Regions from separate parts of the Homo sapiens genome. Here region 1 is linked to region 2. Evidence: fine-mapped expression QTL. A gene starts in region 2. The other region holds a variant in brackets. All regions are shown on one strand. Distances are between the middles of the regions.

Region 1 (2,908 bases), 120 kb before region 2:
TTTCTGGCAGAAATTTGAAACCAGAGAACTGTTGACTATTGGATATCCTATGATTTTTTTTAATAGAGACGGGGTCTCACTTTGTTGCCCAGGATGTTCTTAAACCCTTGGGCTGACGCAATCCACACGCCTCAGCCTCCCAAAGTGCTAGGATTACAGGTGTTAGCTACCACACCTGGCTATTTTTTAAAAATCATAAAATGTGTGAAAAAATTACCATGTCAGTAAAAATTCCCTTCACACCAGAATTTGGCATAGTGTAGAAACAGGTTATTATTGAACTTAGAACATCAGGTTTTTGCCTGAAAAATTATTTCTACTTATCAAGAAATGTTCTTGAATGGAAGTGAACATTATGTCCAAGGCACTGACCTTTCATAAAAATAAACTGGAGAAAAATGCTTTTTTGAAAATAAGGACATTGACCTCACTGTTGGCTACTCTTAATGTGTTGTGTGTGAAATTCTGATTAAAGTATGATAACATTTCAAAAGTGTTGCTTAACCTAGTATACACTTTCAAGATATAATCTTTGACTGAGGAAGACTCAGTCTAGCGAAAGTCTTTTCTATAATGTGAACATGACTTTCAGACGAAGATGGTGATGGTACCATCAATATTTTGCCTTAAGAAACTTAAGAACTTAATACAAAAAATTTAAATGTACTCCCTTTAAGGGAAAGCCACCAGCAATTTCTAAACTTAAAGCAGGAAGATGAAAGGATAGAATAAATTGTGCCTTATATTCTACAATTCCAGAAGAAACATGAGCCCAACTCCGGGGTTGCACACAGTCATGCCAGTGTGATTTGGGGAGGAATCCTGAGGCTCCAGCCCTGGGCTCCAAGTTTTGATCCCTCAGCATTGGGTACAGAAGGCAGATTGATGCTGCTGGTGTGGAATTTCCTGGGGCCTGACTTCACTAACTCATCACATCTCATCATTCTTCCGTTCTCTCCTCTCTGAGTCCTTTTCTTCAGCTGTTGCACCATTTCTACTTTGTTCAGAGGGATAATGCTGGAAGGTATAGGATGTCAAGTTCACTCTGCTTTTATTTTTTATTCCCTTTGGCAGACAGTTGGCATCTGTGTGAAGATGTGAATGGAGGAGGCAGAGTAGGCAGTGAGTGCCGCAGCCACAGCTTGTGTTCTCTGCAGCCCTGGCACAGAAGATAGGAACACTCATGGGGGATGCGGCCACT[G/A]TGATGTCTTCCCACACAAGAAGTGCCAAGTGCTTTTCTCATGCTTTTCTGGATTGTCCCATGGTGGACGAGTCAGCAGGAGTGAGATGGAGCAGCACAGTAGAGGGGTACCTGGCAAGGCCCGGAGGGAGGACCCCCTGCCCCAAACATTTCAATGATATCAGGTGACAGCCGTGATCCTCTTAGCACCTGCTCTGTTTTGTCCCAGGCCAGGATATCGTTGTACATATTCTCAGCTAAGTGAGCACCAATAGAGGAGAGGGAGAGTCTCATGGAAGTTCCTTCTAAGCCTTTGGCTCTTTTTACCTTCAACAAGGTGTGCCACCTCTTTGATCCAGCAAGTGGGAAGAACAGTCCCGGCCTCTTTGCACACAAGACCGTGATACCAATGCACCATCACAGGCCCCACAGGGGAGCTGTCCGCTTCCCCACACAGCTGCTAGGGGCTCTTTTGCATGTTCCCAACCTTTCCTGCCTTTATCTGATATTCGTAAGTACAATTGTAGAAAAGGGAAGGGCTTTACTAGTCAGCAAGTGTCAGCAGGTTGAGGATCCTCTAAAGGCATCTTGGAAAATCAAGGAAGGAGACACATGCCTAATTCCTATGCTCTGTTACCCTGGCCTCCAGCAAAGTCTACCCTCATATCAGAGAGACCCATTGTAGATAAATATGGGCTGCCAAAAGCAAGACAAGCCTTGGGCAAACTGCCCAACAGATGGTTCAACTCTGTGTGTACCAGCCAAGGGCCAACGTGTCAGACAGTAGCTTCTGTTTGTGCCTTAAGTCGGAGTTGTGAATATAAGATAATTCCGGGATGGCAGGGATCCCACAGTTATGGATGTGGGATGGTTTAGTTCCATCCAAGACAAACTTAGGACATCCTCTTTCAGGGGTTTGAATACACAGCTTTCTCTGCTACCCCCTCAAAGCGTTGGCCACCAGAGCGGAGTGGTTAGAAGGGTGAAGGGCTTTAGACAGGAGGGAAGGAATGTCCTTGCATGGCTTACAGGATGGGGACCCTAGCCAAGATCTTGGTGCTTTGGCCTGCAGGCAGCATCAGAAGCCAGCCCAGGGAGTGGGGCAGTGGCCTTGTACAGAGGGCTAGTGGTGGCTAAATTTATGTGTCAACCTGACTAGGCTAAGGGATACTCACACAGTGGGTGGAACATGATTCCTAGGTGTGTCTGTGAGGCTGTCCCCTAGAGGTTGGAATTGGACTCAGTGGATTGGGTGAAGATCTGCTCTCACCCGTGTGGGTGGGCACCGTCCAATCCACTGAGGGCCCGAATAGAATAAAAAGGTGGAGGAAGGATGAATTCACTCCCTCTACTTGAGCTGGGACATCCATCTTCTCCTTGGACATCTGTGCCCTGCTTCTCAGGCCTTCAAATCCTGGGACTTACACAGGCTCCCCCACCCCCTGTCCCCCCAAGGCTAGTCCGATTCTCACTCTGTTGGACTTGAACCAAATTACACCACTGGCTTTTCTGGTTCTCCAGCTTGCAGCCAGCAGATGGGAGTACTTCTCAGTCTCCATAACCACATGAGCCAATTCCTATAATAAATCTCATAGCTATTGATCTATAACTATTTATTCTCTGGGAAACCTTTACTAATACAGGGCTCTTGTTTCCCTCAGGTTCCTTAGATCCTGGGATGAGGAGGTGGACCAGCAGAAGGTGGGCTTGTGAAGGCAGCCCGGGGTC
Region 2 (2,908 bases):
CTCTCAGGGAATCTGTCCATCAGTAGGGGGTAGGAATCGATGGCTGAATGTCCAGCCTCCCCGCGCTGCTGTGAACAACCATGAGGCATGTTCTACACGGTCTGCAGGTCAACTGGAGTGAGCCGCAGTGGCACCCTGCTCGTTAGCATATCGTGTATGGGCCCTTCTCCCTTCCCTGCCTCACTTCCCCTCCCCCTGTGTGTGCTTCCCGGGATCTGCTCCCAATAAACTACCTGCACTCAGGTCTTTGTCTGGGAGTCTCCTTGGGGGAAACCTAAACTAAGACAACTCCCCGTAGCACTCTGTTGCACTGTTTTCTAAGCACCCACTGTCTCCCTGGGGACCACATGTCCATCCCCAGAAAAAGCTCCTACTCTGCTGAGGGTGGTCAGGACTTGGAGTTACTACAGCGACATCTGTGGGTCGCCAGATCTGTGTGGAAGCAACCATGCCTTAACTCATCTCAGAGGATTCCATGAAAGCACCAGCGGGCAGATGGTCCCAGGGGTCTGTTTGCCCCCATTGAATAGGGCAGGCATGGTCCATGAGCGAAGAAGCCTCTAGCTGAAGTTGGTAAGTATGCACTATTGCAAAGAATGTGTCCAGGGCGTACAACTGGCCACCCCATCATCTCCCCCACTCAAGCAACAGAGCTTTTTTGCCTCCATATCTGGAAGTTGCCCTGAGCATGTAGAACACCTGCCCAATCGCAGCCCCTCCCCAGGAGGAAAGCAAACAGCTGGCTCTCTTGCCTTTGATCATGCGGGAGAGATGCTAAGAGGTAGGGAGAGTGGGGTCAGGTTCCAGGTAAGGTGGGAAAAGCAGAATCACAGAATGTCACAACCTGAAGGAGTTTGAAGTTCATTTATCCAAAAATTTTTAATTGGCAGCCTTGTGGACTGTGTTCAGTCTGAGACAGGTTCTCTTTGACCAAAACAAGATTTTTGCTTTAACGAACCCAAAGACTATTTTTAAAGTTCTCGAATTCCAGATTCTCTTGAAAACAATGGGAAGCTCTGACAAAGTGGAGTCCATGTTCCCACCTGCCAATAATCCGCTGGCTGGGGTTTAACGATGGGGAACACCTTTTTAGACCTTCAGGGTCCTGCCACAGGTTCAATCCTGTATGCCCAGAGCTTCCTGGGCACCAGTCATTTGAATGGGCAGTTCCTGTGTTTAACCAGGAAGGTCGTGGGAGGATTTCGAACCTGTCAGAAGCAAAGTGAAGGGCTCCAGACTCTCCGGACAGATGGGCTGAGGCACTCCTGGGATTGTCTTTATACGGCCATGGAATCTGATAGTGGTGGTCATCGCAAAGTTTGGGTGAGGACTTCAGGGGCTTTGAGCAGAGCAAACTGTCCCCATCCCCAGCTTCCTCCTGGGGGCCTCCTCCTTCACCGCCATCTCCAAAGGCCCACACCGCACTCGTCGGAGCCGGGCTTTCCTTGAAAGGGTCACCTTCTAGTGGGCGCGGACGCTGGCACTGGGCACCTCCGGAAGACAGGACTCTCCCCTCCTGCGCGCGCGACCCGGGTGCGGTGCCACGACTGGCGGCAGAGGGCGGTGCTCACTGTTCCCAAGCGCACGGTAGAAACCCGGCTACTGTGTGGTCCGATTCAGACGGGATGCGAAGGCGCTGAAATCCGTGCGAGAGGCTGCCCCCGCTGCCGGGGACTCGCGTCAGCGCGGCCGGAGCTACGGTGCCCGCGCCCTGGACGCACCAGCCCGAGAGCACGCGGTGGGGTGGGGGAGCTGGGCATCCACCCTTGGCCTGGACTAGGAGGCAGGCGGGGACCCCGGGGCGGAGTCCAGCGCGGGGCGGGGCGCACAGGTCCGAGACGCTGGAAAGAGCTGTGGGGCCGGAGCGCCAACTCCAGCTGGAACCCAGAGACCCTGACACGCCGGAGGAGCCCGCCGGGGCGAGGAAAAAAGAGGGACATCCCCCACGCAGCGGCTCTGCAAGTGCAAGTCCGGGTCCTCGAGGTGAAAACCGAGCGGCCCGCCTGCGCCCAACCACACTGTGACTCTCGATCCGGCTTCCGGAGCAGCAGAGCGCACAGAAAGGAGGCGCCGAGACAGGTAAGGGCTTAGATCCCTGCAGTCCCGGGACTCAGTCGGTGCGGTGGGGGAGTCGCTAGGACAAGGGCCTCTGACGCCCACTTTTTTCTCGGGCATTCCGGCTGCTTTGCCTCCCGCCACTCTCGAGATATGCGTCGGGGCTGGCTCCAAGCAGGCGAGTTGGTTTCAGGAGATCCCCTCTGGGCCCTCTAGGACCGGGTAGGGTACGGTAAGCGGAGTCTGTGGTGTGCGGGCGCGGGCAGAGGGAGCCAGCGGGTAGCTGAGCTCGCGGACGAGCTCCAAATTGCAGGGGAGGGTGCAGGTAGAGGGGCACCTTCCTGAAAGGTGAGCAGGAAACAGCAAGCGTCCGTGGGGAAATTCCCGCGCACCGCATCCTCCACCCACCCGCCGTTTTCTTCCAGCCAGGAGGCACCGCAGCCTTTGCTTCTAGAGCCTGAATTTCTGACTTGATTCCTGTCTTTGCCAGGATGTCGCCTCTAGACGCCGACAGTGCGGCCGCGTTGATGGGGCGGGAAGGGGGCTGCTGGAACGGGTCGCTCCCGGGCGGGGAGTGCAATCTACGAAAATGCGGCTGGGACCTGTCCCAGCCCGGGCGCGCGCCCTCTTGTCTTGGGTTAGGGGGCTGGAAAGCCGAGGAGGGGTAGGACTCCCCATTCTTGGTCCCACGCTGAGCAGAGGCTGCGGGGATTGGGGTGTCGCATGAGACGGAGGGGCGACCTGGAGAGAAGACACCTCCGGGTGTGGACGCCACTGGGATTTGCATCTCGCCTCTTGGAGGTTTTCACCTTGGGAAAGCAGCTGGCGGGCGCACCCCAGGTTAGGGTGTCTT

Alleles and levels. Positions count from the first base shown, and alleles are read on the strand shown. Sizes are in standard deviations (SD) of each study's normalised expression.
For the expression in prefrontal cortex of the gene that starts at base 1,619 in region 2, allele A in region 1 goes with a lower level than allele G (small effect, 0.29 SD a copy in GTEx).

What was found.
Region 1: its variant is fine-mapped to the expression of PROKR2 in prefrontal cortex (GTEx, PIP above 0.99).

The regions. Positions count from the first base shown.
Region 1 is chr20:5,432,572-5,435,479 of GRCh38, reverse strand. It overlaps LINC00658 (long intergenic non-protein coding RNA 658), which reads left to right. Exons shown (of 5, transcript NR_038240.1): 3 at 1,075-1,308; 4 at 1,410-1,691; 5 at 2,842-2,908. Among named protein-coding and RNA genes, the nearest start is that of LINC00658, 12 kb to the left of the region's middle. The variant G/A (reference allele first, on the strand shown) is at 1,202.
Region 2 is chr20:5,315,665-5,318,572 of GRCh38, reverse strand. PROKR2 (prokineticin receptor 2) reads left to right here and starts at 1,619. Exons shown (of 3, transcript NM_144773.4): 1 at 1,619-2,079.